Homo sapiens: one gene and its partners. The protein of the gene in region 5 purifies or fractionates together with the protein of the main gene of each other region. This does not show direct contact. Each region holds a gene or a part of one and is shown on either strand. Other genes may lie near its edges.

Region 1 (3,500 bases), on a different chromosome or scaffold from region 5:
GTGTTGGGATGTATAGCCATTCTCTGAAGAATGGCATTGAGTAGAGAGTTGGATGTTGTGAAGGAATGGGCCAGGCAAAGAGCAGAGAGAGGAACAACAGTTCAGAAAAGGCCCTCAACTTGGCGTGCTGGAGGACTGAGAGGGAATATCGGTTCAGAAAAGGCCCTCAACTTGGCATGCTGGAGGACTAGAAAGGTTAATGCAGCGGAGCAGTGAGTCAGAGGATGGGAGGAGACATCAGTTTTTTGCTTTATGAGTTCTCATAAATGCAGAATTTAGTTAAGCAAACTGCGTATTTGCAGAAAACTTCACAGATACAAAATATCCTCAGGAAATCATTGAGAAATTAGTCTTATTTATTTTTTAGAAACTCGAAGCCTGAAGAGGCACAAAGAAATTGAGTAACTATTTCTGAGTAAAGTAGTATGAAAATATATCTGACTATATCTCTGAATGTTTTAGCTGGCCAAGTTAATATAGAATGAATCAATGCTGAAAGAAGACAAGGTTTCTGAAATTTTTTAAAATGGCAAACAGTTGCAAAAAGAGGAGTTTCAAAATCTGTACAATGGCAACAGTGTTGACATAAAAGTCTCTGCAATAGGTATATTACTTTCAAATAAGTAGCATTTATTTAAGTGTAAAGGTTATTTTGTATGTGTGGAATAAGATTTTTAAACAAATAACGGAAGTCAGTTTTTTTATGATTAGAATAAACTATATAGATGTTTTAATCTTTGATTCATGACAAGATCTTTCAGTATTTACAAAGATAAACATGAGTTATAATACATATGTAGAAGGTGAAGGCTGGGTGAATCTGTGTTAATTTTGCCTCCTATCAACGGTTGTTAGAACAAATCTGTTTTCTTAAAAACTGCTTTGAAATTCTGATGGTTTCAATTATGGATAAAAAAGAATTTACATGCCACAGATTTGTGATCTGAAGACTACACAGGATGAAAGGAAGAAAATTATAATTCAAAATTTTGTGAAGGATATAGAAAGATTGGGAAAGCACAATGTTCTTGGATGAAAAAGATTAATATTTTTAAAATGCCAGTTGTGTCCAAATTAATTTTTTAATCAAACACTTACCTTCATAGATGTGATTTTAATTTAAAAAAATGAATAATATGCCCAAACCTAGCTGTGTATTGAAAGGGATGCCCCCACAGATCCAGGCTCTGAGGAGAGGGGTGAGCTGAACAGACTCTCTGGGTCATTGTCTGGTTTGGCCTCACTGGAATTTGAGTCTTTTCAAATGAATGTCAGTGGACAAAGGCATATGTGGACTCTGGAATGTGACAGGACTGTAATATAGTCCAGGTACTGTACATCTGGATATAACGTGATCAGAAGGAGTGGATGCTCTGTATTTTTTTGCTTTGAAGGTCCCCATCGCCAAACTCAGGAGCAGATCATAGTAGAGCACACCTGTGGGGTGAAGTGACCCAGGCCACAGGGCAGAGCAGGAGCTTCATCCCCACAGGCTCACTTAGGCATTAAGTGTAAAAGATAGTACAGCAGTAGAGGGCAGCTGGTGATGACAGTGTGCTCAACCCCATCTCGTGAGTCACACTGTTCCAATCTGGACTGGCTTCTCTCCATTGCTCACGCTCAACTTTGTAACATTATCTTCTCTGTTTTGCTCTGTTGGGTCTCCTATTTCCTGTAGCCTTTGTTTTTTTGTTTTCTGTTTGTCAAAAATACCATAAACAAAATTGAAGCACAAATAATCTAGGAAGAAATACTTGCCATGTATAGGTCAAATAAAAGATTGAGATTTTAAATTCATAAATAGCTCTTAGAATTTATTAAGAATAAAGCAAATACTCCATTTACAAAAGGATAAAGGGAGTAAGGAATTTGTAGAAAAAACAGCCAACAAAGAGGAAAACACCCAACCTCCTTAGTAATAGAGAAAATGCAATTTAAAACATTAATAAAATTTTAAAGTTTCAAAGGAATGATGATACCTGTATTAGATAGATGGACACTACCATATGCTGCTGTTGGGAGTGTAAATTGGTATACTACTTCTGGAGACCATTCTGACAATATGTTAAAAAAAATCATAAAAATGTTCACATTCTTTTATTCATCAGTTTCTGCTCAGGAAATTTTTTTGACTTGAAGTATTTTAGTAATCTTCATTTTGCCTTGAAGGGTTTGTCTCAGTTTAAAAGTTTTTCTTTTATTTGGACAGTAATGTATTCAGTAACCGGTGCTAACTTATAAGCTACTCACTTATATTGCCCTATTTTATAAAACATTTCTTTGTAATTTCAGTCCTACAAGATTATCAATTTTGCCCCCAGTTTACTTCGGATTATAGTCTCTGACCATGTGGAATTCCCAGTACGACAGGCAGGTGAGTTGGTTTTTTATCCTTTATAAATTTATTTATAGGTGAGAGTAGAATGAGAGTTTTATTTTAATTTTACATATCTGTAATTTATTGAAAAATTCAGAAGCACTAGCACTCATGAAGTATTTCCAGTGACTTCAAAACTCACTTTCTTTTTCCCCAGAAATTTAGAGGTAGATACTGAGCTCTCAAATATCTTCTAGCTCTTTTTTTTCCTCCTCTCCCTTTTACCCACCAATTCCTTGCCTCTGTAACTTTGCCCTTATTTTTCTCAATTTTAATAGCTGATCTCTCTAACGTTTTATGATTTCTGGTAGCCTAGCCTCTGGGCCCATAGATTAAGACCATGAATTTATATATGTGAATTCGAGCTCTGTTACGTGGCAAATCATGGAGGTAATGTGTTGCACAGATGTTCCTAACCCAGGTGACTGCGGAGCAGGACTATGTTTTAAACATGAAACTTACTTTTAAGTCTGTGGGATCTTACGTTGTTTCATGATGTTGTACATCGTTCTTTTATCTTGTTTTTTTATGGACTGGTCATTAGAGCCCAGAAGGTTAAAAATTAGAGCCTTAGAGTATCATGAATTTTCAAAAGATAATAATCAAAAGCTAAAGGAGGTAAACGACAATAGCTAATTAAAAATAAGTATTTAAAAAGACTTGTTATGTAAGTGACATATACATGTAAGTAATTTGGACAATTTAGAAGAATACAAAGAAGGAAGTAAAACTACCCAACATTCATCACTCAGAAATGGCCATCATTACTCATCATTAACGTTAGGTGAACATTAGCCTTTCCATGTGTTCACGTAGAAGGATAGATGAACAGTTTCAGAGAAATGGGTCATAATCTACATGCTGATGAAAGTATTTAATTTGATTTGAACATAGAATAAAAAGATAAAGAAATATTAAGCTTTGGGAAGATTTATAACACTATATATGATTTCCTGAAAGATCACTTTGTGGTTAAGATAAAAAAGAAAATCCTATGGAAAAACACTGATGTTGGAATTATTTTTTGCTTTTATAAGGTTTACAAGACTTCTGTGTAAATTTTTGAAACCACAATTGGCACTTGTTTCATCTTTGTTTTATAAAATAGGGCTGTTCTGGAATA
Region 2 (3,500 bases), on a different chromosome or scaffold from region 5:
TTAGAAAAAGCATATTAGACAAAAAATTAAGTTGACACCATCCTAAAAGGTAAAAATAAAAAAGTCTCAATGACTTTTAAAATATCAGACTATAAACTTCAGAATAAATTTGAAAAATTGTATTTACCTTTTCCCCCACCTCTTCATTTAATGTCAAACTGGATAATATTGAAAGTGCAAACACAACCACAGTTAAACTACTATGGGCCAACAAGGTGATAAGAGTTCGATAAAAAGATTTCACATTACTCTGAGGAAAAAAAAGTTAAAAAATAAATTAGAATTATAAATTTTATGTTTTGGTTTAAAAAGTATATCTTGCACAGAGTGGGCAAACTTTTATTAAACATCATTATCAACTCTATTAAATGATTGTTGCATTTAAAAGATAAATGTTCTACAGGAGAAATTTAGATCAGAGATAAATTTAAATTCAAAAATTGTTATAAAGAGAGTACCTACAGAAAAAAATAATTTGGTAAATGCGTGCAAACGAGTTGGAGATAAATATTTCCAAAGTTTTGTCACCTTAGAATAAATAATTCAATGATGGTAAATCAGGGTGTCAATTCTAATAAAGGGACACATGCAGAGTGGAAACAAAAGAGCTACCTTAAATACTGCAGGATTTGTGTTAACAAAAGAACTGTAGCATTTGTTAGCATTTGTGTTAACAAAAGAACTGTAATGAGGAACTCTCATAATTGTGGTGGAAGCAAAAAAAATTCAGCAAATTTAAGAATTTGTTTTACGTTACACACCGTGGAGCAGCAATTAACTTTGCCATATTTGCTGATTAGCATTTAGATTTAAGAGATCACTGCATGTGTGAGCAAGATGGGTAGTTTCGTATATTGCTGACAGTCATATAGATAGCCACAATCTTGGTGAAGAGCAGTTTCTACACATGAAACTATGAGCAAATGTTTATTCTTCCTTATATTTAAGTGTTTCCTAAATATGAACATATGAACTTTTTTTTCAATTCAGAAATTGAAACACACACACACACACACACACACACACACACACACAGTTACTCCACCTCCAAAGTAAGACCAGGGCAGAAAAATGTAGCACTTGAACAAGTGAGATATTAAATTTAAAATCGAACGGGTAATGCTGAATAGCACAGCAGGGAAATTGTTCACCAAGCACCTTAAAGAATCAGTGACTTGCTTGATTTAATATACTTTGTTTTTTTTTTTAAGGATGGAGTCTTACTCTGTTGCCAGGCTGGAGGGCAGTGGCGCGATCTCAGCTCACTCCAACCTCCACCTCCCGGGTTCAAGCAATTCCCCTGCCTCAGCTTCCCAAGTAGCTGGGACTACAGGCGTGTGCCACCACGCCTGGCTAATTTTTTGTATTTTGGTAGAGACAGGGTTCACCATGTTGGCCGAGATGGTCTCCATCTCCTGACCTTGTGATCTGCCTGCCTTGGCCTCCAAAGTGCTGGGATTACAGGTGTGAGCCACCATGCCCAGCTGATTTAATATACTTCTAAAAGTGATTCAGTTAAATTCATTTGTGTGTCTTCATTTATCACAAGTACTGTTGGTTCATACTGAGCACTTAACTCATGAATCTTTCTGGTGGGGTTGCCATTGATTTTGTGGAAACACAAGACTGAGATAAATGGGACTGCCAGTGATGTGCCTCCCTTCTAAGAGCACAAAATAATTTAGTAATTCTTGTACTACTCAATGTAATAAATAATGGGATGCCATGCTGAGGAAAACTTTTAGAAATAAGTGTTTGCATTAACCCTTAACACACAGTCTTCAATACAACATACACGAAGGCTGAAGTGCTTCAAGTTATTTGTATGTCAATCTGACTCTTAATTTTGATGGGTCATCCGATAAGACACAGAATCCTTGTTCAAATTTGTTTTAAAGAAAAAGATAAATACAATTTTCTTTAAGCAGAGAATCTACCATAAAACAAGAAACATTAAAAAGAAATAAACTTCTTACCAATGTCTTTATGTGCGTTTGAACAGAAAGATTGTGCCGACAAAGATTTGCCAATAATCCTAGACAAGGCATTTTTAACTCATCTTCAGAAGATTGACTGTTGTTTTACATTGGTGTTTTGTTTAAAGAAAAAATAGTAAAAGAAAAAAAGCATTAACATTATTCTAAGTCAAAATGATATAGTTAAGTTTATACATTTCAATTCCCTTTTACACGCAAAAAAAAAAACTAATTAACATAAGAAGCCAGGGAAGCTTTGAATAGTATTGATCATTTATCTCATTTTAAAACCAAATTACCCTATTCAATTCCATCATGAAAACATGGAAGTAACTGTCAGCGTGGACCATGTGCTGTTTCATCAGTATATTTTCCTACAAGAATAACTACACAATTTTCAATTTCAGTAATTTTTTTCTGGCCAAATCAATTCAGTCCATAAATTTTTCTTATGAAAATTAAAGTTGCTTTACAATTTTTTTTTCCTTTTTACATTTTTTCACCAATGAATGAGGTCACATACTTTTACAACTTTTGATCCTTAAAATCATCTGGGCAGAACAAATAAGAATCGGAGTCTCACTCAGTTTATATGTTAGAAAATGTTATCTAAGAAAAATTAATCTACCACATGGTTGTAATTTAAAAATAAACAAATAAACTATTTGGTTTTATGTTTGATTGCATACTCACATGTGATCTATCAGGAACGTAATTAATTCATCTATATTGGCACCAGAATAGAAAATTTTGACATTATATGTTAACTTCTGTAGAAGTTGAATGCACTGAGAATAAGAAAATAGTTATAAATATAAAGATATAAAAACATTGCCTGCTTAAAATAATGGACTCTCAGGCACATTCTGAGCATGTCCTTTTCCATTTCCTAAAACAATTTTTTTAAAAAACACATGTAAAGTAATGTAAGAACCTTAGGGCTCTTCTCTCAATTCACACATTTCTACGTATTCTGTCTCAGAGCATGGTTATCAACCTTGTTCACTTAGTCATCTTAAACTTGAATGCAGTTTGAAACACACATGTAGTCCATCAATTAGAAGATACCCTTCTTCACATTTTATCACCTCTAAAACTGCATGTCAATTTAATTTGTGATGTTTTTCTTTCTTACAATTGATGACATTTTAGAGTCAATGAAATATGAAGAGCTTTGAATCTATATTAAATAGACTCTATCTACAGCTTTAATTTTTGTAGAACGTTTCCTCCACAGATTGAGACTAGATGCCAACTCACGTTACAATTTTAATATAAATAGCTTATGTCTCAAAACACAGACATCTGTGTTTATAAGTCAAAGCAGTTATAATGTAGATTTGTTTTTCTTCAATAGTGGTGATAGAAATGGATAAGCTTCTCTTCTCTAGAAACATTTAAATTGTATGTGTGCAACCAGCTTTTAATGAGATGAACTGTGCCTAATCATGTAGTATTTATTATATAGCATATATACACTGTAAGTCAGCAGTTTATGACAGAAACTATCAATTTTGATCTGAC
Region 3 (4,120 bases), on a different chromosome or scaffold from region 5:
GCACTCCAGCCTGGGCGACAGACTGAGACTCTGTCTCAAAACAACAACAACAACAACAACAACAACAACAAAAGCAAAAAACACTAAAATGTGAAGCAACACCAAAGAAGTGGAAAGTAGTTTGCAAGAATGGCTCATCTTGCTCTGTAGGGCATTCTAATAGGAGGAACCATGTCCTGCCAGTTTCATCAGGCCAGATAGTTGGCTAAATCCCGGCTGGAAAGCTGGGTTCTATGTTTTCATGTAAAGAAGGGTTGAGGCTGGTAAAGAAGCAGCTACTATATTGCACCATGTTCAGAAAACATCTGAGAGATTCAGACAGAGTTTAAGGTGGGAGGTACTCTGAACCCAATGTCAAAGATAACTTGTTAAAGGCCACAAGAGGAAGAAAGCAGACCGCATCTGAGGGAATGGACCGCCATTCTCCACCTTAAAACAGGTACAGAAGGGGGTAAATCTCTATAGTTTTTTTGATAGACATTAAGGAGCCAGACTACTTAAAAGACACAAGCAGCCTCCAAAGGGTCCGAAGCATTGCACTAAACTCCAGAGACTGATCCAACCCTCTAACCAAATCCAAAACCTGAGTCATATGCTCTATTACTAGATCACCAATATCAGGTCACTGCATCGATGCCTTTCCATACTTTTCATTCTCATAGTCTGCCCAACAGCACATTACCAGTAAGTTATGGGGGTCGGGGGGCAGTCGATCTATTTCTCATCAGTGACTTAGATCAAAATTCTGTACTTCTGAAATTTAATTTTTCACTTAAAGGCTCAAAAAGATGCCAGGTGTGGTGGCTGAGGCCTGTAATCCCAGCACTTTGGGAGGCCTAGGTGGGAGGATCGCTTGAGTCCAAAAGTTTGAGGCTGCAGTGAGCCATGATGGCATCACTGCTCCAAAGTCTACACGATAGAGCGAGACCCAGTCTCAAGAAAAAAAAGATGAATAAAGTGAGGAATCAGAGTTTCAAAAAAGACCTCGAGAACTTTATAATTGACTTTGCCCAGATGAGACCATGGCATTTGGCTAAAGTTGAAAAGATCAGAGCAAAAGTGGAGTTGTTGTAAGACAGTTTAAATACAAGTCAAGGTCCACCTTTCATACAAAGGTGCCAGACATGCATTTGGAGCACCAGGAGCACTGGGTACCACTCAGGGAAGGTTTAGTTAAGATGAATTTGCACCAGACTCTCAAGTTTTATTCAGGTGACAACTTGAATGTGATGAGGTTCCTTTGCTTTGTCACTCTTCCTTCCTCATACTCAAGGGGGACAGACATTAATGTGCATAAACGAATTTTATTTAGAAGCCGCTAAAAATTCCTTTAGATTAGTTTATACATGGTTCTCAAACAGCTTTCTCCTAACCAGTGGTTTCTCCTGTATAGATCTGATATTTTATAAAACAATGACAATTACAAGTGGGCCTTCAAAATGGTCCTTAGCCTGTTAGATCCCAAATCTTAACATATTTCCAACAGAAGAAAATTTGTTTTCAACAGCTCTTTCATACTGTGAAAGAATGTAAACTAAATTTAAGAGAGATTTGTTCTAAATTCTTTTCAATAGAAATACGTCCAGTAGGAGAGCTAACTGAAGGTTTTGAATATGATGGGTGTGTGATGGGACAATTTCCCATATCTCTGATGAAGTATTTAAGTGGTGGTGGAAATATTCCTGAGTTGGGAGATTCTGAGGATTTGGAGTTCCAGTGAAGCTCTGACCAGATATATTTCTTACACAAAGACCAAGAAGATTTCTCCTCCTGTTTCTGGATTAAATTGTTCTTTGTGGTAGCTACACTGGACCCGGTGAAAGGCTCACGCGGCAGGAAATTGATAGAAAATCTCGAACCAATGGTTTATTTTCTTCTCCATCACTTTAAAGCACACAATAGAGGACGGAGACAAAGAATCAAAAACAAAGGATGATCAGTTCCTCCAAACAGAAATGCACAAAGGTATTTAATAAGGGCAAATTATTTTTAAAATAAACGTTAAGTATGGTCAGGACAGTGAAGCAATCGCATATGCATTTAATTTCTGGGAAAACACGAAGAGTACAAACAACTAGCTAGGTTTATAACTCAGAGGCAGAAACTTGTTTGATGACATCTATTAAGCTTTGATAGCCGCCTTTTCGAGGCCCTACCCTTCACCACTCCTACTAATAGCTCCCCCTACTCTTATCCCAGTACAATCCAGCTGGTGAAGAGAACAGCGAAAGACTTTGGTCCTGGACTCAAAAAATATTTCCCCGACCGCGCTACTTCCTCCAACAGCACCAAGTCTAGCTCCATCTCCGTCCCCTGCAGATTCTAGGCTCCATCTATCTTTTCAAGTCTCCACCCTCCCTCCCCCACTCCCAGGCTCCACCTCCCCCGACCCTATCCTTCAGGCGCGCCTCTCCTCTCTCGGACTTTCACAACCACCAGCGACATCAATCTCTCGCTTCCTGCTCCACTTCTCGGCGCCCACATCTCCAACTGGCTCAGGCTCCCCATGTCCCCAGCCGGTACGGAGCTGCGGTCAGCGGATTGTGCGGCTGAGCCATCCTCGTGACGGTCCCGCCTCACTCACCCTCCGTCACCTCCAGCACCTTAATCTGTTCTTCAGCAGCCGCCCGCACCTCCTGTACTGGGGATAGGATCCCGGTGAGCGTATCCACTAACGCTTCCTTTAATCCTTGTGCCACTGGACCCGGCAGCCCGGAGGCCGCACCAGCTGCCGCCGCCGCCGCCATCTTTTCTCCCCTCAGCCCGCCAGCCCCGCGGCCGGGACCCGCCACCGAATGACGGCCCCCGCGCGCGGCCAATCCGCGAAGCCGCGCCTGCGCACCAGAGGCGGGCGGGAGCGGGCGGAGGGCGGGGAATGAATCTAAGCCTCCAGAGACAGCGCCTCCTGCTGCCTGAACGAGAACTGCACCTTTCTCTGCAAGGATCTCTGGATTTGTGTGAAAACTGAGCCCCAGACAGGTTAAGGGGCTTTCCTAAAGTTGCACAGTAAGTTAGCAATCTCATTTGGAATAAAGTTCATGATATATGACTTTATATTCATGCATCTTTCAGGTGTTAGGAGAGAGGAGGCGGGATGGGAATAGATGTAGAGGGCTTTAAGGAGAGAGGTCTGGGTCACAAATAGCCCCTATTTTAAACCACATTCTTTTCCCCCCAAACACTGAAAAAAAGTTGGCTCAAGTGACTCTCTTCATCTTAGCCTCAGGAATCCAAAGAGGGGGGAAAATAAACTAAAGCAAACTGGGAAGTGGAAGTGGGAAAACCACGGCCCAGTCCCTTGGTTTTCCAGCCTAGATGAGCCCAACCTCAAAGCTGGGAAGTGGCTGGGCAGGGGAGACACCGGCATGTGAAAGGGAGTTTCTTCCAGAGTGAGTGTTGTATGTGACTATTTGAGAATGAATCCTATTTGTTGAAAATGTATAAATTTTTTTCCCTGAGAAATTATGGCTGGACATTTAAGGGGTGCGAGAACAAGAGCAGTTTGATGATATGGTTGTCAGCAGCTGGTCGTGGGAAATGGCCTACGGTGCAGAGCCGCTCCTGAATAGCGGAGCAGGTGGAGAGGATGAGCGCTCCAGTGAGGTGTTAAAAATGCAGGGTGTGGCGAGGCGCAGTGGCTCACGCCTCTAATCCTAGCACTTTGGGAGGCCGAGGCAGGAGGATCGCTTGAGCCCAGGATTTCGAGAACAGCCTGGGCAACATAGCGAGACTTCGTCTCTACAAAAAAATACAAAAATTGCCCAGGCGTGGTGGCGTACGCCCTGTAGTCCCGGCTGTTCGGGAGGTGGAGGTGGGAAGATCACTTGAGCCCAGGAGGAGGAGGCTGCAGTGAGCAGTGATTGCGCCATTGCACTCCAGCCTGGGCGACAGAGTGACATCTTGTCTCAGAAAAAGAAGAAAAAGCAAGATGTAAGCCAAGGCAGGAGGATCACTTGAGCCCAGGAGTTCCAGGCTGTAGTGTGCTGTCATCACACCTATGAATAGCTACTGCATTCCAGTCTGGGCAAGATATACAGACTCTGTCTATAAAAAAAAATAAAAATTAAAAAAAATGCAGGGCAGAGTGGCAAGCATGTAGTGGCAGAAAGGATAGAATGTT
Region 4 (3,500 bases), on a different chromosome or scaffold from region 5:
AAATTGAGGGCTAGTCTGAAAGCAAAAGGTACTATGTATAACAGTGTTACAGGAAAATGAGTTATAATTCCCAATAATCGTACTACAAATTTTTAGAATATAATGTTTCATAAATGGGATACCAATTCAACACTCTAACTTTTCAAAATAAAAACAAATGTATGACTATATCAAATTTAAAAGACTGATACATACATATACATGCACAAACATACTTGTATCCCTAAAGGTCGCAATGCGTTGGTGAAGAAAAAATGCAAGATTGATTGCAGCTATATCAGATCTTATACAAATATGAACAAAAGAATTTTTGTTCTCATGCAGAAAAGAATGAAAGGATTCTGAGAAGAATGCTGTGACCAACCAGTTACCAAGCAAAGAGGGAGCCAGGCAGACCCCAGAGGCAATGACAGCAGTTAGGAATCTAATACAATGCTCTGGGTGAAAAGTAATTATGGGATATAAATAATCCCACAGATCAAAAAAAAACACCCAAATGAAATAAATTAAAATCCTCTTAAATAGACTGACCCAGACATTCAAATGAGATTTACTAACTGCCAAAGAAAATAAGAGTTGCTGTTTAAAATGCTATTAGCCCAAATTTTACCTGTGCATCTGACTGTGTCATCTGCTCAGCTAACTGTAAACAAGAATGGAAGGAGAAAAGAATGTCTTCACACAAGCTAGTAATTATATCTTTGTGTTTCAACTGGCTTTTTATTATGGACTGGTGCTTAAGGCTCTGCCTAAATGAATAAAAAGAAAAGAATACAATCACCACAAGTAACACATCAAGTAACTTAGGACCTCTAACAATATCTACCTTGTAGAACATTTAAAAAAACAATCAAAAAGCATCATATATCACATAATATAACTAAGATGTGCCCAGTTTACCTCTGAAGCAGTTATATTTGTTTAAATAAGTTGCTAATTTTTTCTCTGTGTAAAATATTAATTGAATTCTTACTATGTATGAGGCATTCTACCAGGCCCTGGAGACAAAGGGGTCAAACAAATGGACACAATCTCCGCCTTACCTGCATGAAACTTGTGGTCTAGCATGAGAGAGAATGTTAAATAATTTTAAGAATAATTAATTAGGGCTGTGATTTGTCAAATGACAGAGTCTAAGGTGCTACAATAGAGAGACCTAATCTAACTTATTCTTAGGGTAAGGATATCAATCTAACTTAATCTTAGGGTAAGGATATCAAAGAATGTTATCATGAAGATATAACTCTTAAGCTGAGAACTGAAAGACAGTAAGCAGGAGTTAGCAAGGTACACAAAATAGGAGAGAGAAGCATCCTAGGCAGATGGAAAAACCACGAAAAGACTCTGGGACAGGAGAGTTTGGTATGTTTGAGGAACTAAGAGTAGGGAGAGCAGCATGAGACAGGCTGGTGAAGGAGGCAGCATCCACAGAGGATTAGGTTGTTATTCTTAATCAAATGGGATAGACTTCAAGCAATAGAGTAACATGATCTGATTTACTTTTTAAAAGATCATTCTGCTGGGCAGAAAATGAACTGGAAGAGGGTAAGAGTGGAAGATAATCAGTGATGATGATAGTGATGTGGCTAATTCCTTGAGTATTAACTATGTGTCATGCACATTTCTAAGCATTTCACAGTGATGAACTCAATTCTCACTATAACCCTGTCAAGAAGTTGCTATTATTATTTCCATTTTCAGATGAGCAAACTAACGTTCAGAGAAATTAACCAAATAGCCCAAGGGCTCAGAAGGAGTAAATGATTTCAAGAATGGATTTAAGCACATGTGATACAGCTCCCAGGCAACACTCTTAACCACTGAATGGCAACTTAATGTCCTGGTAGTACAAGAAAAGTACCTAAGACCTGAAAATACACTGACCTTTAATGTTTTATGTATGTGTATAAAGTAGATATTCTTAACCATTTTTACATCTCAACCACATCTCCTCTCACCCCTAAGAATCTGATGAATGCTACAGGCACTATCCCTGGTGACCCTTTAAAATGCTTCAGTTTCAGAAAGTTAAAATTACTGTACAAATGGAATTAAGTGTGAACAACTTAAAAGTACCTAATGAAAAGATTATATTCAGTTTTAATTATAGTTATCAATTTATCTAATCCTAGAAATAGGATACTTGATAGCTGGTTAAACAACAGTAGCAGAAGAAAAGTGGTTAAGTTCTAGTCTGGCCCATGGCCCATTATTTCTGAAGTACTAGCTAACTAGGAAGAACATTTTTTTTAATTTTAGAGGCCACAGGGTAAAGAAGTCCAATTTGGCTTGAGAGCTACATGTAGAATATCTGGATTATCAGACAGCAGTGTCAGTGAACATTAAATTCACACAAAATGTTTTAAATGCAATCTAAAGAATCATGAATAATTAAGATTGGGGAATATGGAAAACATTTTCTAAAAAGTAAAAAATAACAAACAAACTTACTTAATTATAAACTTCCAAGTATTGGCATGAAATGCATGGTCCATACTGGAAATAACAGAGCAGATATCCAATAAAGAATGAATAACTGCAAAGAAAGATAACAGAACTTTTAAGACATCCAAATGTCATGGGGGTGAGTTTCTCCTATAATTAAAACTATCTACTGAACAATTTCAACATTTGATTGAATTAAAATACGTAACACAACTTGGAAACAGTTGTGTCAAAAGAATTATTTAAACTATTTAAGTGTCACACTTGTTAATGGTTTTTATAAATATTGAATATTAACTTCTGAAGTTTATACCTACCAGATGACCTAAATAAAACTAAAGATGTTCAGTGGAATAAAAGTTGTACCCTATTATAACTGAAATATTCTACAGATATAATTCTAATCCAAAATGACAAAACAAATTGCTAAGGAAAGAAAATCTAAAAAGGAAGAATTCAAATTAATATCCATGGTATTCATGCAAGGCTTTTACTCAGTCTGTGGTAGATTATTTATAAAAATGGCCACAATGACTGCCCTTTGTGAATCCACACTTTTCTACAATGACTCTGGGCTAAACGCTATGACCTGCTGTGGCCCGGGGGACAATAATAAAATTAAGGCAAGCAGAAACTTGAAAAGTGCTAGCACACAGCGACCTGCTCACACTTTTGCTACTCTTAGAAACCCTGAAACCACTGGCATCAGGTATCTGAGATAGGGTGAACCTGCTGGATGATGCACATGGCTTTCTCAAGTACTTCTGCCTCTGCCAACAGCCAGATGTGAATGAAGTCACTGAAGTCACATGGGTGAGCTAGTGCCCCAGGTGGATCAGAGAAAGTTGTCTCAGGACATCCCACCCTAAACTGCAGACTCACAGAATCATGAATAAATAAATAGTGAATAAATAGATTTTGAGGTGGTGTGTTGCAGAGCAACAGGTGCCTGATACACTGCACAAAACCAACTTACTCTCTTTATACCAAAGTTTTGAATGCAAACTTTGCCTTTATATTGTTTTTCAAACTCTTGTTCATAATCCATTAATGAG
Region 5 (3,500 bases):
GATCAGATCCAGCAGGGTCTTAACTACATGCAATAGCATTGCACCACTTAGAAGCTCCCACTACTACAGGAGAGGAAAGAGTTAAGCCCAGGGAGAGAGCCAGAGGATGGGATGGGCGGGACTCACAGGTAATGTAGTAATCATGGTGCTTCTTGAACTCCAGGCCCATGTAGTTGGGGCTGAACTCCTGGAACTTGATGGTAAAGCGTATTTCCTGCTCTGGCCTATTGCAGGTGACCAACACGTTGGGGTCGAGAACTGTGCTACAGGCAGCTGCCTGCTCAGGCCGCACCAGGTACAGCTTGTAGTACTCATAGGGCCGCCCTGCTTCTGCTCGGGGGCAGATGATGTCCAGCTTGTCTCCAATTTTCGGATAGATCACCAAGCCCTTCCCACTCAGGAACCTGCCCAGAAGGAAGAAGATGGTCAGCCTCAGGGTTGGGGGTGGCCCCAGGCCATTCCAGAACCAGGGAAGCGGACAAGAGCCGGGCTGGGCCTACTGGGTGGAGATGGCAAGAGCAAGCCTTCTGCCCTTCCTCCATCCTCAGGCTGGGGGTGGGGAGAGAGAACCACACTACCAGGAGAGTGTGGAAGGGGTGGCCCATGGGCAAGGCTGCCAGGCTCTGACTGCTCGGCAGGGTGGAGCACTGCCTGGCTGGGGGAGCCCTTTGTCCTAATGTGGCATTTCCGCAGGGGGCTGACGTGGCCAATGGGCTGGGTACCAAGGTGTCAGGCCCATGCTACCTGGAGGTGGCAGTCTTATATACCCCCACCCCCAACAAAGATTCCTTCATGACCGCTGCTACTACCTCTCCTATACCCATACACACGTGCGCGCGCGCGCGCGCACACACACACACACACACACACACACACACACACACACACATACACACACACACAGCAAGCCCACACATGTCTTAGTCACCACTCCCCGCAGCTCCCAGCCAAAGGCTGGGGGAGCTCAATCTGTCTGGGACCCATGTCTTCTCCCCCATCCTTACTAATCTTGGTCATGATGGAAAGATAGGAACAGGCATCGCCTGGAGCAAAGGGATGATGGCCACAGTCTCTGGCCAGGTGCAGCTCTGCTCACTCCCACTGCCTATTGTCCTACTGGCAATTCATCCCACCCTCAAAATGCAAGAGCCTGAATTCCTAAACTTGATTCATCTCATTCTTAAAAAGAACAGAGGAGAAGAGAAGGGGCTCAACCAGAGACAACAGATCATAGAAGATAGGGCCTCATCTGTATCCTAACCTGTCACCTCTATGTTGCTCCTACTCCAGCTCCTGAGAGGAGATGGACAAATGCCTTTTGAGCCAGGTTCATATTCTAATCCAGAAGGCCAGGCACTGGGGGACAGCAGGGAGGGTCAGCAGCCCAGGACCACCTATCCATAGGACTCTGTCCTTGCCTAAGCACACAGAAAGAAAATGGTGCTCCATTGGCCATTTCTGAGACTGGATGGGCTGGTGCTGAGAGCAAGGCAGAACCATGTAGGAGAAAGAACACAGACTTTAGAATCAGATTCCAAAGCTAGGCCCTTACTAACTCTGTGACCTTGGATGAGCTGCCTGTTCTGAGCTTCAGTTTCTTCTCTTGTAAAGTGGGGGTGGCAAGAGCCCCTACCTTCCAATATTGTGGTGGGGAGACAAGGCAGCACATGGAGAACACCTAGCACACAATAGGCGTTCAACATGTTTGACTGCCTCTTAGAAGCAGTCTCCCAAGAGGCAGGAGGTCAGATACTAACACTAAGTACCTATGAGCTCACTCTCATATTTTGGAGGGGAAACAGGAAGAGAAGATATGGCTCCATCGTCAAGGACTTTACTGTCCAGTTTGGGTCAGAAAAGTAAATAACCCATACTCGAGTGATAGACAACACCAGGCTATCTGTAGGTATGTGTGAGGATGATGATTCAAGCAGCAAGGGCTGGAGGCAGGGAGAAGAAAGAGATAGCTCATCTGACCAGGATGGTCAGAGATGTATCCACAGGAAAGGCAGGATGAAAGTGGGTCTTAGGTGAGGAATAAGAAGTCAACACACTGAGACAGTAGACAGCAGTGGCTACAACACAAAGCCCAGGCCAGTGATTGGTCCAGCTTGGCTGGGAGTGAGAAGAGAGAAACAGAAGAAGAGGTGAAAAGTTCACCTGGGGCCAGACTGAAAGGCTTCAAGGGTCACAGCAAGCAGGGTGGGTTTCATCCCATTGGAGACAGGCTCTCAGAGCAGGAAGGACAATGGAAGGCTTCAGGCAGTGCTTAAAGAGAATGAAGCTGACAGTGTCATGCACCAGTTCACAGGCTACCACAATCATCTGAGAAAAGAGTGGTTCCATTTCCTGAGGGCCCATTACACCAAAGGTACTACAAGCAATACCGGCCTACTGGGAACTCTGGGCAAATGCCTTTGCAATGCCAAACCTGTGTCCTCATCTGAGGGAGGGAAATGATACCCAAGTAGGCGAAGAGGGAAACTGACCACATGGATGAAGTGGACGAAGAAAAGCAGCCTTTCCTCCATGTCGAGTGAGGCTCCACCAAATTGGGAGCTGCCATCTTGATGTGCAGGAGGGTAAAAGCCAGAATGAGATGGCCTCCCCACTGGTACCTAACTATAGAGGGCCCAGAAAGGAAGTAGGCATGGGATGGAAGCCTGGATAAACATTTCAGATGGAATACCCCTGTCCCATGCACCATACAAAGCCAACAAGTTTCCCCAAAGCCTCTAGAATTCTCCAGGCATTTTTTCCCTTTCCAGTGCTCACAACGGTTCCATCCAGATGGCAGGATTAGACAACTGCTCACATCTTAGAGCCAGCAGGAACCTTAGAGTCCAGGCCCTTCATGTGAGGGAATGAATGATCAGATGAATGTTCCCATTGAAAAGAGGGGTCTAAACCTACCCAGGACAATAACCCGATGGGTCTAAGAGGCCCTAAAACATTACCTGAATCCTTGTACTGTTGCATCTTAACAACACATATATATGCAGCTACATAGAGGGCACGGAAAGGGAGACAGGCCAGCTCAGCTTTCTAACCACTCGGTTCTGGCTTACTCACCAGGGAGTCCTGTCTACCCCAAGTGCAGTCTCCCATTGCCACCCAGGTTCCAGAGCCCTGGAATTGGAACAGGGCTTCTAGCTAATTGGGGTTCTACCTTGAAGCCAGAGGCATTGAGGAAACAGATGTCTACATGATGGAGGAGGGGGGAGAAGAGAGAACTATTGCCCCCAAAACCCCTCAGAGTCTCTTCAACCTCAGTGAACAGACTTCATAAATATTCATTAGTTCATTTGCATGGCAGCTGGCAGAGGGAAACTCACCTTCCCCTGAAGTGCAGAAGGGAGCGGAGCCTGATGAGACCCGCCTTCCCTGACCCTGATCCCCCATACTGGTAACCTTAGCATCTTCCCGACCACTGGGCAAACCTCGTCTTGACCTGTCAGAAGCTCAAGAGAGTGGTAACGGGCCATAAGGGATGGGTGTAT
Region 6 (3,500 bases), on a different chromosome or scaffold from region 5:
TGGTCTCGAACTCCTGACCTCAGATGATCTACCTGCCTCAGCCTCCCAAAGTGCTGGGATTATAGGCGTGAGCTACTACGCCCGGCCTTATGTTACATATATTTTAACTAAAAAAAGCTTTCATGAAGCTTTTCTAAATTAAATAATGGAGAGAGAGATTGTAATAAATTGAGGTCAAATGTGCTCAATTAAAATGAAAACAAATGACAGGCCGGCCACAGTGGCTCATGCCTGTAATCCTAGCACTTTGGGAAGTGGAAAGATTGCTTCAGGCTAGGAGTTCAAGACTGCAGTAAGCTATGATCACTGTACTACACTACAGCCTGGGCAACAGAGTGAATGTGTCTCTATTTTAAAATATATATAATATTTATATATAAATACACGTATTTTATACATACATACTTTATATGTAAATATATAAATAATATTTTAAAAATATTTGTGTATATATATTATGTGTGTGTATATATATGCATAAATAAAACATACATATACACATAAATAAAGCAAAAACCAGACAAACCCCAATTCCAATTCAAGCCAATTTTGTATAAATATAAATTACACTTTTTTTTTTTTTTTTTTTACTGAGACAGGGTCTCACCATCGCCCAGGCTGGAATGCAGTAGTGTGATCATAACTTACTGCAACCTCAAATTCCTGGGCTCACGTGATACTCCTGCCTCAGCTTCCTGGGCAGCTGGAACTACAGGCAAGCACCACCACGCCCAGCTAATTTTTCTAATTTTTTGTAGAGACAGGGTTTCACTATGTTGCCCAGGCTGGTCTTGAACTCAAGGCCTCAAGTGATCCTCCCACCCTGGCCTCTCAAATTGCTAGGATTACAGGTATAAGGCATCACACCTGACCAAATTACATTGTCTTCATTTATGTAGATCAATCTAAAAAAGATTTGACTGAAACTGGACTGCCCATTGCTATGACTTACGGGAAATGGGCAACAACTCAATACCATGATGAAGTCCTGAAGTGAAGCAGGATTAGAAGGAACCATAATCAACACTGCTGTGGTGTCCTAGGTCAGCAAGACACCTCCAAGTCTTGAGCAGGGAACTGGGGAGAACTGATGCTCTTACCTTGTTAATAATTCCTCCGTTTTCAACAACTCCTTCAGCACCAACTATGACAAGATCTGCTTTCTCCATGATGTAGCTAAGGGGAAAAAAAGCTTTTCATGCTTTATTTTCTTGGCTCTAACGAGTAGCATCATCATCTGCAAAGATCAATATTCCATTTCTATCAAGGTAAGTTCCTCCCATAACTACCTGTTTTTTTTAAAGCGCACTTAACACGCGATAGACCCCTGGCATTGTTACCAGGGGTGTTTTCTGGTCATGACCCTACAATGAGACATACACTTCACACTGCCGCCCGGCGCATGCACACGTACATATGTGTGTAAGTGAAGCAAGAATGTCCTGACACAGCAGTCTTCCTTCCAAGTGTGGTATCCTCTACTTTCTTTTCTACTTCAGCACAAACCAAACAAAATTTTAAAATCTGATGAGATCTGAAGTTGGACAAAAGTGTTATGCAGTTTTAAAAATCTTTCTTTTTTTTTTTGAGACCAGATCTCACTCTGTTGCCCAGGCTAGAGTGCAGTGGCATGATCTCAGCCCAAACCTCTACCTCTTAGGCTCAAGCGATCCTCCCATTTCAGCCTCCCAGGTAGCTGGGACCACAGCATATGCCACCATGCCCTAGAGATGGGGTTTCGCCATATTGCCCAGGCTGGTCTCCAACTCCTGAACTCTAGCGATCCACCTGCCTCAGGTATGAGCCACTGTGCCCAACCTTAAGAATCTTTCTGGTAGGATGAAGGCCAATTTAGTCTTTAAAATGAGCAATTAGTAGAATTCCTCAAAATCCTTACTTTTGAACACATTCCTAATTTCCTTAATCATCTATCTTGTTTTCATTCCAAGAGATCACTACTCTTGTTTTTTCTTGGGAAATACACTGACAATCCCAGGAACATGTGACTTGGCTTTGCGACACAAGCTGCATCTTCTAGGTGAGACAAAGCATCCCAGTATGCCACTGAGGACAGCCAGGTCTTCACAGAAATACAGAGCCCTGATTACCCTCTGCTGATCCCAACTGACCTTTGTACTTTGCTCTTAAAATGCATTTGCACTGGCTGGGCGTGGTGGCTCACGCCTGTAATCCCAGCACTTTGGGAGGCCAAGGCGGGCAGATCACCTGAGTTCAGGAGTTCGAGACCAGCCTGGCCAACATGGTGAAACCCCATCTCTACTAAAAATATAAAAGAATTAACGTGGCATGGTGGCATGCGCCGGTAATCCCAGCTACTTAGGAGGCTGAGGCAGGAGAATCGCTTGAACCTGGGAGGTGGAGATTGCAGTGAACCAAGATCATGCCATTGCACTCCAGCCTGGGCAACAGGGCAAGACTCCATCTCAAAAAAACAAAAAACAAACAAACAAAAACAACAACAACAACAAACTCAACACTTACAGCCATAAAGCTATAGACACAACTCCCACTCTCCCCAACATCCTACAGCTCTGTCTTCTTTGTATGCTATCACAACCTCATAACAAGCTTGCTGGTTTAGGGCAGCTATTAATTAAGAAGTAGGACGCTACCTGGTGTGGCTTTATGAACGGGACTCAAACTTTCAATCTGAAAACTTGCTGTAAGCCAGCATGGGGTGGGGGAGGTGATTATGGCTGGGGAAGATGGGCACTCACCCGACAGCAGCATCTAGCACCACAGTGACAGGGACGTTGAGGTGGCAGAGGGCTTTGGCCATTTTCTTACTGAAGATGACATTTTGAGAACGTTAGAGAAAGTACAAGACAGTACCACAGTGATGTATGTCACCTAATGTGGACAGTGGATGTTTGCTTGAAACTCACATTAATACTAATGGGTTAAGGGGCAGATCCCAATACTTTGGACTAAGGAAACAAGAATTTGAGTTCTTTAGAAAGAAGTATTTTTGGAAAACTATACTCTTAGACTCTGGGTAAGAGATGTAAATTCAGGAAAAAAGGAGGAAGTTTTGCTTTGATTATCGTCTAGAGAGAGGGAGATATAAGTTACCTATTCCTTGATAAAAATCTTCATCAATACAATCTCTGCTCTTCCACGGAGTTAACTACTTAAGTGAAACCCCTAGATCATATACTGCGGCCTGCTGCAAATTCAGTGATTTTTCTTCCAAAGGCAGGAAAAGGTACAATGAAAGGCAGTGCTGACTGCTGGCAAGCTGGGGGCACATTCTGGTTCTGATCCTGTTGGACTGTAATCCGCAGTTTGCTCTGTAAAATTATGGCTGGGCACATAACTGAACAGAAAGGTACTTGCCCTGACAAATCAGGCTGTGACTCTGTGACGTATACACTAAATCGCTTCTTGGCCGCCACGGCTGCTTCCAGGACTCTCAGGACCACTCTGGAGTAGGCGTGAGTCAATATTGTCTGTGGACCGAGAAAGCTTTGTCAAAGGGG
Region 7 (3,500 bases), on a different chromosome or scaffold from region 5:
GAATCTAATTAATGAGATTTCAGAAGCTATTAGGCCTATATATAAACTATTAGGCCTATATATAAAAATACGGAGCCTTAATAACTAAAAGCAAGCTATGTGTGAAGAAGCTTTGAGCTTTGGGATGTACTATTTCATATGAATGAGAAGAACCAGTGTTTTTGTTAAACAAGTTACAAGCACTCATTTTTTAGAACCTAAGCAATGACATTTCAGAGGATATTATCCTATATATGAATATACGAGTATCCATCCCTAATAACTAAAAACAGCTTTGTGATGTGCTGTTTTATATCACTGAATGGAACCTGTGTTTTTATGAAACAAGTTTCAAACATGTTTTGTAGAATCTACAAAAATGACATTTCAGAGGTTATTGGGTTTATATATGAATATACACATATCCACTACTAATAACTAGAAACAAGCTATGTGTGAAGAAGCTTTCTGATGTGCTTTATTATATCACTGAATGCAACTGGAATCTCCATTATACAATTTCCAAACATATGTTTTGGAGAATCTAAGAAAGGAGATTTCAGGCCGGGCATGGTGGCTCACGCCTATAATCCCAGAACTTTGGGAGGCCAAAGCGGGCAGATCACCTGAGGTCGGGAGTTCGAGAGCAGCCTGGCTAACATGGAAAAACCCCGGCTCTACTAAAAATACAAAATTAGCCGGGCATGGTGGCGCATGCCTGTAATCCCAACTACTTGGGAGGCTGAGGCAGGAGAATCACTTGAACCCGGGAGGCGGAGGTTGCAGCGAGCCGAGATCACGCCACTGCCCTCCAGCCTGGGCAACAAGTGGGAAACTCTGTCTCAAAAAAAAAAAAAAGGAAATGAGATTTCAGAGACTATTGTACCTACATAGATTTTCAGCCCTAATAATGAAAAACAAGCTATGTGAGGAGAAACTTTCTGATGTGCTGTTTTATATAAATGAATGGAACCTGTGTTTCCATGAAGCAAGTTCCAAACACATGTTTTGTAGAATCTCAGATATGACATTTCAGGGGCTATCAGGCCTATATATCAACATATGAACGTCCAGTACTAATAACGAAAACCAAGCTATGTACAAAGAAGCTTTGTGATGTGCTGTTTTAAATCACTGAATGGAACCTGAGTTTCCATTAAACAAGTCCAAACACAGGTTTTGTAGAATCTAAACAATTACATTTCTGAGGTTATTAGGCCTATATATGAACATGTGACTATCCAGCTCAGTTAATTATCATGAAGATATGGGTGAAGGAGCTTTGGGATGTGCTTTATTATATCACTGAATGGAACCTGTTGTTTCATTGTATCCATCGGGGGCCTGGGCGTGAGCCTGGTGCTTGGTGTACACCTCAAGTCGAGTGTCTACCTGGGGCCTGATGTCCATCTGGACACTGGTGTCCACTTGGGGCCTGACGTCCACCTCGAGCTGGATGGTCCTCTGGGGTCAGGGTGTCCACCTGGGGCCTCCTGTTCACCTTGGCCCTGGTATTTACCTGGGGACTAGACATCCACTTGGGGCCTATGTGTCCACCTGGGACCTGACATACAGATGCCCGATGTCCATCTGGGGCCTGGTTTCCACCCGGGACCTGAATGTACCTGGGACCTTGTGTCCACCTGGGGCCTGGTATTAACCTGGGCATCCACCAGGGGCCTGGTGTCCACCTGGGGCCTATGTGCCAAACTGGGACCTGATGTTTATGCAGGGACTGGAGTCCACTTGACTAGGGCCTGGCATCAACCTGGTGTCTGATGTCCAGTGTCCACCTAGAGTCCAGTGTCGTTTGGGGCCTGATGTCGTGCTGGGGCCTTGGTGTCCACTAAGGCCTTATGTCCATGGTGGTGGGGAAGAGGTGGGAATCCTTGTCCCCATGGGCCCTGCCCTCTTCCTGGGGAGAGCGGGCAGGGAGTTTCTGTGCCCCCACCCCTCAACATCCAGGAATTCACCCTTCTGCACATGTGGTGGGGAAGGCGCCATTTTTGCCCACTTGGTGCCCAGTTAAGTTGCCCCGACTGCTCTGCTCAGGGTGTGAAGATCTCAGGTGGGTGCTGGACTTGGGGCCCCGAAGCTCCACCCCGCCTGACTCCCTGCGGGAGTGGGCTCGTGCCTATGAGCTAGAGCATGGCCGCCGGGGGTCTGTGTGACAAGGCAGAGAATATTAGTATATACAAAATTTTTATACAATTGGAATGATACTGGTAGTAAAATTAAAATGCAATACAATAAGATTACCTTGCAGGGGCATGGTATTTTAGATTTGTTAAAGTGATTTCATAGGGATGATCTTATTTCAGTCTCATAACAGCCTAGTGATTTGGTAGGGAATTGTGAATTTCATTATACAGAGAAGGAAACTGGTGTCCAGAAGAGTCCAGCAACAGCCCATACTTCGTTTAAATCCCGGTGGCTCCCAGCTCTTACTTATTCCCCACGACTGAGTGCCTGACACAAGTATAGGACTTCAGTGAGCCCAGAAAATCTGAGACAGGTCTCAGTTAATTTATAAAGTTTATTTTGTCAAGGTTGAGGACGCACCCCTTACACAGCCTCAGGAAGTCCTGATGACATTTGCCCAAGGTGGTCAGGGCACAGCTTGGTTTTATACATTCAGGGAGACATGAGACATCAGTTAGTATATGTAAGAAGTACAGGCCAGGTGCAGTGGCCCACGCCTGTAATCCCAGCACTTTGGGAAGCCAAGGCGGGCAGATCACCTGAGGTCAGGAGTTCAAGACCAGCCTGGCCAACATGGTGAAACCCCGTCTCTACGAAAATACAAAATTTAGCCCGGCATGATGGTGGGTGCCTGTAATCCCAGCTACTCGGGAGGCTGAGATGGAAGAATTGCTTGAACTCGGGAGGTGGAGGTTGCAGTGAGCTGAGATGATGCCATTGCACTCCAGCCTGGGTGACAGAGTGAGACTCCGTCTCAAAAAAAAAAAAAAAAAAGAAGTACATTGGTTTGGTCTGGAAAGGGGGGACAACTTGAAGCAAAAGCAAGAAGACTGGAAGTGAGTCAGACAGGTGATACACAAGTGGTTGCATTCTTCTGAGTTTCTGATTAGCCTTTCCAACGGAGGCAAATCAGATATGCATCTATCTCAGAGAGCAGAGGAGTGACTTTGAATAGAATGGGAGGCAGGTTTGCCCTAAGCAGTTCCTGGGTTGAGTTTTCCTTAGTGATTTTGGGGGCCTAAGATATTTTCCTTTCACCCCCTCAAACCTCATTTCCTTCTTCCTCCTTCTCTTTCTTTTCAGAAGAGGAACGCTGCTTCTACCCTACCATTTGGGGAGTAGCACCACCTGATGGAAGAGAACATTCTTCGGTCTTCTCCTCACCATGGCTTGAGAATCGCATAATCTCGCTGTGCCCAACTTTCCTCATCCCTAAACAGGGCCAGCTTGCCTTATCCATGAACTGTATCACCGCAACACCAAACTGAGCTGTGTTCTAACAGCATTTAGTCAACTGCAGACGGTTTTTGCAAATATTA

What was found.
Region 1: the proteins of EFNB1 (region 5) and IPO8 purify together in Homo sapiens (co-immunoprecipitation; 2 studies listed by BioGRID and IntAct, with this or other methods). This does not show direct contact.
Region 2: the proteins of EFNB1 (region 5) and CIP2A purify together in Homo sapiens (co-immunoprecipitation; 2 studies listed by BioGRID and IntAct, with this or other methods). This does not show direct contact.
Region 3: the proteins of EFNB1 (region 5) and IPO9 purify together in Homo sapiens (affinity purification with mass spectrometry; one large-scale study listed by BioGRID and IntAct). This does not show direct contact.
Region 4: the proteins of EFNB1 (region 5) and FIRRM purify together in Homo sapiens (affinity purification with mass spectrometry; one large-scale study listed by BioGRID and IntAct). This does not show direct contact.
Region 6: the proteins of EFNB1 (region 5) and EIF2B1 purify together in Homo sapiens (co-immunoprecipitation; 2 studies listed by BioGRID and IntAct, with this or other methods). This does not show direct contact.
Region 7: the proteins of EFNB1 (region 5) and SACS purify together in Homo sapiens (affinity purification with mass spectrometry; one large-scale study listed by BioGRID and IntAct). This does not show direct contact.

Annotation. Positions count from the first base shown.
Region 1 is NC_000012.12:30,689,370-30,692,869, reverse strand, and holds part of IPO8 (importin-8), read left to right. Parts: intron 1-2,292; coding exon 2,293-2,374; intron 2,375-3,500. UniProt on the Homo sapiens protein: Involved in nuclear protein import, either by acting as autonomous nuclear transport receptor or as an adapter-like protein in association with the importin-beta subunit KPNB1.
Region 2 is NC_000003.12:108,579,439-108,582,938, forward strand, and holds part of CIP2A (protein CIP2A), read right to left. Parts: intron 2,765-3,500; coding exon 2,670-2,764; intron 2,074-2,669; coding exon 1,977-2,073; intron 251-1,976; coding exon 128-250; intron 1-127.
Region 3 is NC_000001.11:201,827,837-201,831,956, reverse strand, and holds the start of IPO9 (importin-9), read right to left. Parts: upstream 2,801-4,120; 5' UTR 2,748-2,800; coding exon 2,585-2,747; exon of another isoform or gene 2,398-2,584; intron 1-2,397. UniProt on the Homo sapiens protein: Nuclear transport receptor that mediates nuclear import of proteins, such as histones, proteasome and actin. Serves as receptor for nuclear localization signals (NLS) in cargo substrates.
Region 4 is NC_000001.11:169,805,040-169,808,539, reverse strand, and holds part of FIRRM (FIGNL1-interacting regulator of recombination and mitosis), read right to left. Parts: intron 2,537-3,500; coding exon 2,452-2,536; intron 750-2,451; coding exon 611-749; intron 1-610. UniProt on the Homo sapiens protein: Regulates PLK1 kinase activity at kinetochores and promotes faithful chromosome segregation in prometaphase by bridging kinase and phosphatase activities.
Region 5 is NC_000023.11:68,835,521-68,839,020, reverse strand, and holds part of EFNB1 (ephrin-B1 precursor), read right to left. Parts: intron 405-3,500; coding exon 127-404; intron 1-126. UniProt on the Homo sapiens protein: Cell surface transmembrane ligand for Eph receptors, a family of receptor tyrosine kinases which are crucial for migration, repulsion and adhesion during neuronal, vascular and epithelial development.
Region 6 is NC_000012.12:123,623,687-123,627,186, forward strand, and holds part of EIF2B1 (translation initiation factor eIF2B subunit alpha), read right to left. Parts: intron 3,471-3,500; coding exon 3,358-3,470; intron 2,808-3,357; coding exon 2,739-2,807; intron 1,177-2,738; coding exon 1,101-1,176; intron 1-1,100.
Region 7 is NC_000013.11:23,423,703-23,427,202, forward strand, and holds part of SACS (sacsin), read right to left. Parts: exon of another isoform or gene 3,265-3,500; intron 1-3,264. UniProt on the Homo sapiens protein: Co-chaperone which acts as a regulator of the Hsp70 chaperone machinery and may be involved in the processing of other ataxia-linked proteins.